Linked DNA regions of Homo sapiens. The protein of the gene in region 2 interacts with the protein of the main gene of each other region in a pairwise test. Each region holds a gene or a part of one and is shown on either strand. Other genes may lie near its edges.

What was found. The genes of interacting proteins can lie anywhere in the genome.
Region 1: the proteins of WT1 (region 2) and RNASEH2B interact in a two-hybrid assay, tested with the Homo sapiens proteins (one large-scale study listed by BioGRID and IntAct).

What each region holds. Positions count from the first base shown.
Region 1 is NC_000013.11:50,951,291-50,954,790, forward strand, and holds part of RNASEH2B (ribonuclease H2 subunit B), read left to right. Parts: exon of another isoform or gene 1-2,614; coding exon 2,615-2,695; intron 2,696-3,500. UniProt on the Homo sapiens protein: Non catalytic subunit of RNase H2, an endonuclease that specifically degrades the RNA of RNA:DNA hybrids. Participates in DNA replication, possibly by mediating the removal of lagging-strand Okazaki fragment RNA primers during DNA replication.
Region 2 is NC_000011.10:32,387,275-32,390,539, forward strand, and holds the end of WT1 (Wilms tumor protein), read right to left. Parts: intron 1,906-3,265; coding exon 1,784-1,905; 3' UTR 501-1,783; downstream 1-500. UniProt on the Homo sapiens protein: Transcription factor that plays an important role in cellular development and cell survival. Recognizes and binds to the DNA sequence 5'-GCG(T/G)GGGCG-3'. Regulates the expression of numerous target genes, including EPO.

The sequences.
Region 1 (3,500 bases), on a different chromosome or scaffold from region 2:
GTCTGTATCCAGGATTTGATTGATTTTTACAGTAATATAGTTGACTGTTTCCAGGAAATATATTCCAGTAGTCATTAGGTATCTTTGTATCTATGTTGTAATCGATAGCGTGGAGCCTGTCATCTTTAATATGTTTTATATTATTTTCCTTTACTATCATATGTCTGCCTTTGTTGAAACTCAGCTTCCAACCCTCACTTGCTCCAGTCTTTTCAATTTGTCACTGTCAGCAAGCAGAGTTGAATGCAACCAGTGGGTTTGGAGATGTTCCCGAGTTCCTTCTTGCAAATCATTTGTAAGAAGGCCTAACATTATCCCTGTGGTACTCTGCAGTTTGTTCTCTTTCCAGAACTGTATCCATTTAGTCATAGCCTTTGTTACTGTCTTTCTGAGCCACTTCTCTGCTGAAACAATCTCCCAAATCCATAGGGATTTGGTCTTTTAAATAACAAAAATTTTAGTAAATGCTTCAATCATCTTTTTTTCCAATATATTCAACAGTGCACTGGGAATAACATACAAACTAGTTATATGTAGAGGCTACCACAATCATTTTCTTTTTTTAAACACTTGTAACTGGTATCTTGTTTTGTTGTGAGCTATTAAAACACCTGAACAAGTCATTTCTCCAATTAAACATTTTATGTCCATACAAAAGTACCTTTCATCTTAAGTTCTTGTAATGAACACTTTTTATTTGAATTATCAATGAAAAGTGAACCTCATCAGTTCAGTGGCACACACTTGTAGTCTTAGCTACTCAGGAGGCTAAGGCAGAAGGTCGCTTGAGCCCAGGAGTTCAAGGCTGTAGTATATGATGATCGCAACTATGAATAGCCACCGCACTCCAGCCTGGGCAACACAGTGAAACCCTGTCTCTAAAGAAAAAAAGGGAATAATGTCTAAGTGTTTATAATGACATCTGTGTTAGGAACATTTTGCCATAGAGAAGGAACACAAGCATCCTCATAACTTCAAGCTTTTTGTGTTTTGAAAATATTTTGGCCTTCAGCATTATTAGCTGTGAGTTTCACCCTCCTAGCTGAAGATACCTTTCTAGTAAAAAATGTGCATCACCTAAACACCCTTTGCTGTCTTAATTTAAATAGAAACATGTATTTTTTTTTTTGAGACAGAGTCTTGCCGTGTCATCTAGGCTGGAGTGCAGTGGCACAATCTCAGCTTACTGCAGTCTCTGCTTCTCAGGTTCAAGCAATTCTTGTGCCTCAGTCTCCGGAGTAGCTGGGACTACAGGCACATGCCACCATGCGCAGCTAATTTTTATATTTTTATTAGAGATGGGGTTTTGCCATGTTGGCCAGGCTGATCTCCAACTCCTGGCCTCAAGTGACCGCCCACCTCGGCCTCCCAAAGTGCTGGGATTACAGGCATGAGTCACTGCACCAAGCTGAAACATATATTCTTAACAAAGTTGCAAATATACATTCACTTGGTGCTGATAGGTGGTTCATTTGTGATGGATTAGTCTTTTTCTTTTAATGATTCATTTGCTAGAGGTTGCTGTGTGGCCAAGAGGTTTTCCTATAGTGTGTGGTATATTCCCAGGATGAGCCTCTGTTTTTTTACAGCAAACAATTTTAAGACATGGTGTTTTATCCTCTTGGGTTATGGGATAAAACACCATGGGCTGTGGAATCTTTTAGCACCAACTCTACCCGTTCTTTGTTTAGCAAAGCAGGGGCATGAAGAATGAAGCTGGGAAGAAGTCTGTTTCCTAGGTTAGATCCATGTTGGGTCTGGTCAACCTGGTGTCTCCATAAACAGCCTGAAAATTATAAAAATCTGGGTTGTGATCACCATGCAGTCAATTCTCCATGTTCAACAGCAAGACTTGTCTTCCCTGCTTTTGTACCTTTTACATAATAAGTGTGGCATGATTTCTTCTATATTGTGATCATTAAGGCCTTGACAAGATTCTCACATTCACTGGTGTAAAATGTTCATGTGAAAGGAGAAAATATTAAGTAAAGGTCTGACTTAGTTGCATTGGGCCTAATGGAAAGAACACTGTATCAGAATTGAAATCTTGGCCAAAGTCCTCTACTTGGTGACCTTAAGCTATTCATTTAGCCTCTCTGTGCTTCCCTCTCTTACTGGCTGCTTGCTTGTGCAAGGTTGTTCTTGCATGGATAAAGTAAGATAAATATTGTCCCTTCATTCATAAGTGGACATTAAACTGGCCCAGGAGGTAAATGAAATAGGGATTCTGGCTGGACACCTGGCCCCCTTCAAGAGACTATTCTCATTTTGACTTCTGTGCCTTGCATTCATCTGGTAATTAGCAATCCCCTCATGCCCACCACACCTGGCACCTACAAAGCCTGTGTTTGCTGGACCAGCTAAGGGGCTCAGCCATGTACTTACCCAATCATATCCACCATCACCAAGGCTGCTTCTTAGGAGTGATGTGTGGCTCAATTCCCTAGATGATTGGCAAAATGTAAAGGAGCCTGTAAAAAGTAAGCCCTTTGCTGGGTCTGCTGTCCCATTCGCCTCTGTAGAGGTCTAAATTATACATGTTGGGTTTTTTTTTAATGGATTGATGTTGTGTCAAAGTGACATTTGACACCACTTCACTGCTCTAATGTTGCAGAAAATAAAGTTATCAGATGAGCCTGTAGAAGCAAAAGAAGATTACACTAAGTTTAATACTAAAGATTTGAAGACTGAAAAGGTATGTGGGTTCAGGTGTAGTGGTGTTTCGTTCATACTCAGTGCGTGATGTGCATGAATACATGAGGAACAGTTGCACGCTTGATTGTGATTACAGTTTTGACCAGGAAGAATTATTAACTTGCATTTCTGTGACTTAATAATTAAGAATTGCATATGACAATGAAAATGTTAAGCAACTAAGACTTATTATTAGTCAGAGAAAAACAATATACTACTTATCAAGAGTGTGCCTAAATTTTGCTATGTATTCATAGAGTGATAGGGTGGGAAAGGAGGGAGGAAGCTCTACAGGTAATTTTTTGTCAACCCTGCTGCCCAGAAGCAGAAATTATGATGATAAAAATTAATAATTTCACCATTCAGCATTCACCCTGGCAAATGGCATTTTGGTAACAGTCCTTACTTAGTTTTATACATGCATTATAAATACATATGTGGCCTTTAACATTGGCATTATAATACTCAGTTCTGGGCTTTTTATTTAACATTAAATTGTGAAAATGTTCACATATCATTAAACATTCTTTGAAAAAATATTCATGTTTTTATGATATTCAGTCATGGGTGTTTGTTTCACCATATGGAATGTAATTTAATCATTTCCCTATATTTGGACATATAGGTTACTTCTGATTTTTTTATTTTTTGTTTTTATTGAAGTGATAGACATTCTTATTTACAGTCTGTATCTCCAATCATTTCATTAGACACAATTTTGAACTAAGACTAAGAGCTTGGAGAACATGAATTCTTTCATAATTGAAATATATATAGCTAAAGTGCTTTTCAAAAATGGAGAAAGT
Region 2 (3,265 bases):
TTGCTTTCACACTCAGTTGCCCTGGAAAGGCTGAGCAGTTTTCAATCTGCTGAGCTGATTTATAGCAAGTACAGCTGTAAATTCAATTGTACTAGGTGTTCAGCCTATGCCCTCCCAGTGATGTATCTGAACTTTTCAAAAGGACTAGTTGTCATTAACATCTCTCTATTTTCTTTTGCTGATCTGGGATGATGGGATGCAATGACAATCTGCTTAAAATAAACCTTAAAACCTTAAAACATAATCACCACATCATCCACAAACCCCATTCAACCACAGCATGAGCACAATCACTCTGTAACACAAGGTGAAGATATTCTCTGTTGCTTCTAGGACATATAAGTCCCTCCTGAAGTTTGACAGAGAGAAATAAATTGTGGTCAGGACCTGGATAGGCTCACTAGTAGCCGTCGATGTCGGTGGCGTCTTCTCTTACCTGTTTAAAAGAGGCTCAGTGGCCTTGAGATTTGAACACAATACAGCTGATGGAATCTTGCCACTTTCCTTTTGAATAGACTTTAATTGAGAGCAAAGTGAAAAATGCAGGTTACAATTTTAAGTGTTATCATCAATATCTTGTAAGATCAACACCCAGTGATGCATCTAGTACTTATACAGTCCTAATTTTAGTTGTCAAAGAGCAAATCATTATCAGACATATATTTACACAGTAATTTCAAGCAACGGTAAATAATAAATTCCCTCCCTTAAAAAACAAAACACAACACAACACACACACACACACACACACACACACACACACGACCATCTTTAAACAATGGATTTCCTCACCCAGTAAGTCTCATTTTTTTCACATATACTTGTAGACCCAAAGGTCCTTAAGTTACTTAAAAACAGTCTTATCAGTGGAGATCCTGGACCATCCCCTATTTTCTTTTAAAGTCACTTTCATTTTTACAACTTGAAGCCATATACCAGCATGGTTTTTATACACTAAGGACACTCCCAGTGATGAAAATGAATTCCCCTCCATTTGTGCAAGGAGGTATGTACATCTATAAAGACACATATGATTACCACTCAAAAGAGTCAAAAACATACACAAAAAAATCTCAGATCTTCATAGTTTCTTAAGAGCAGTGTGCCAGTGTTCACATTGAATTAACTGAATGGTAAAATTCTTTTAGATTTCTATACAGAGGTACTGGTTAGTTCTGATTTTTTCTTCAGCTGCTTGAAATGCATGAGCTTTAAAAGTTGCCTGGCAGAACTACATCCTGCTTTCCAGGTTAGCAGCCTGGCTGACCTCGGGAATGTTAGACAAGATTCACCCCCGATGCCTTGCTCTCTGATTTATTTCTTGCTGTTGCTGTTAGTAAATGGAAACCATGACAAAGTTTACATTAGCAGACACATACACATGCCCTGGCCTATAAATATTCCATGATAGAAAATGGTACAATAATTCCATCCCCAGCGAAAACGAGCATAAAAAAAGAAGGGAAGGGTCAGGGGGACATGATCAGCTATGGCTCTTCTTACAGTAGAAAATCCACACCAAATGGCAATGGGCTTTTAACTAACCAGACATTGTTAGCTGCTTCTCCAGGGCCTGTGAGTCAACTAAAAGTAGGCAGGGCAGAGACCAACTCTTCCAGGCACACCTGGTAGTTTCCAGAAGCACCGGTATCTTGTCTTGGAAGTTGGATGAAGAAGATCAACTGAAGTTTCCTTTTTAGTGAGGAGGAGTGGAGAGTCAGACTTGAAAGCAGTTCACACACTGTGCTGCCTGGGACACTGAACGGTCCCCGAGGGAGACCCCTCAAAGCGCCAGCTGGAGTTTGGTCATGTTTCTCTGATGCATGTTGTGATGGCGGACTAATTCATCTGACCGGGCAAACTTTTTCTGACAACTTGGCCACCGACAGCTGAAGGGCTTTTCACCTGTTGACACAATTGCCAGTCAGAGACACTTGCAACAAAGAGACAGGCACAAGTTCAACTATCAAGGCCCGAGTGAAGTCATCACAAGGCACCCACTCTGAATTTCCCATCATTCTGTCCCTGAGCTAACCAACTGAGCTCATTTCCCAGGCAGCCTTGAAACAGCAGCACCTCTTGGGGCTTTAAGGATCGAAATATTGTAAAAAGTTATATTCTTAGGTCAGAAAACTTGGAAAGTGGGAGATAAAGAATGAGTCAAGTTGGGGGAAATGTCTGAGCAATTCATAATTAAGGGGAAAAACGTTTGTTTCAGTCTCTGCTGATAGAATGTTTTGTGAACTGTGTAAATTTCTCCCCCTTGTTGAGTAAGTTGGGAACTGAGATGAACTGGGCTGCAGAAGCCTCTGGGTCATCTACCCTGGGTATTACTGAGTGATCACTGTCCAGGGATCTCAGCTGTGACTGAAGCTTTTAACACTTCTATCTGTGTAGATACCCTGGATGGGCTGGATACTTTAAAATAAATCACTGATACCAGTTTACATGTTATGTGTTGTTTTTTTTTTTCTCTTAAAGTGTTACTGAGAGCATAATCCTGTTATATGGAAGATTCTAGTTGGGGCGTGGTTCTTAGATTTTTAATAAGCTTGCCAAAAGATTGAGGCTTCTCCACCCAAAGAGCCCTCAGACATTCTTTCCAAGCCTCATTCTCATTAGGGAGAATAACTACCATTTATTTGATGCTTAACATATGCCAAGCCTTGTGCTGGGCTTCACACACGCACACACACAACCTCATGTACTCCTTACAACTGCCCGTAGGGGAAGCGTTATTATCCCCACTCTACAGATGAGGTAGGACATCTATTGAGGGCAGATCCAGGCAGAACTCAAATCTCCAGGTCTGTCGAATTCCAGAGCCCGTGCTCTTCCCTGTATCACACCTCCCAGGCCTAGCCATGATGGAAAAGCAGCTGCAGCTCCATCTTAAGGAAGAATGCACAGAAGCTAAACCCTGTGCCACCTGACGGATCTTCTCAGATACTGCTGGTCCCACTTGGCCTTCTCTGAGAACTACTGGTTTGGACAAGCACTGAGAAATGTCCCAGGAGGGCTGGTGTCCCAGGGTCAGACTGGAGGCCAATCAAATGTGGTATTAAACAGTCTGCTGGCAAAACAGGTCATGTCACACTTACTTGGGGAGTGTGACAGCCGTGTCAAAGGGACTATAACACTTTGCCACCGAATTATGAGCTCAGGACTAAGTTAAAGAAGCATCAAAGGCACCTGAGGAAGGGAAGCAAGATCCCATCCTGCCAACCATGGGCCACAGGTGCCTTGGCTCTGTTTTTAAATGCAG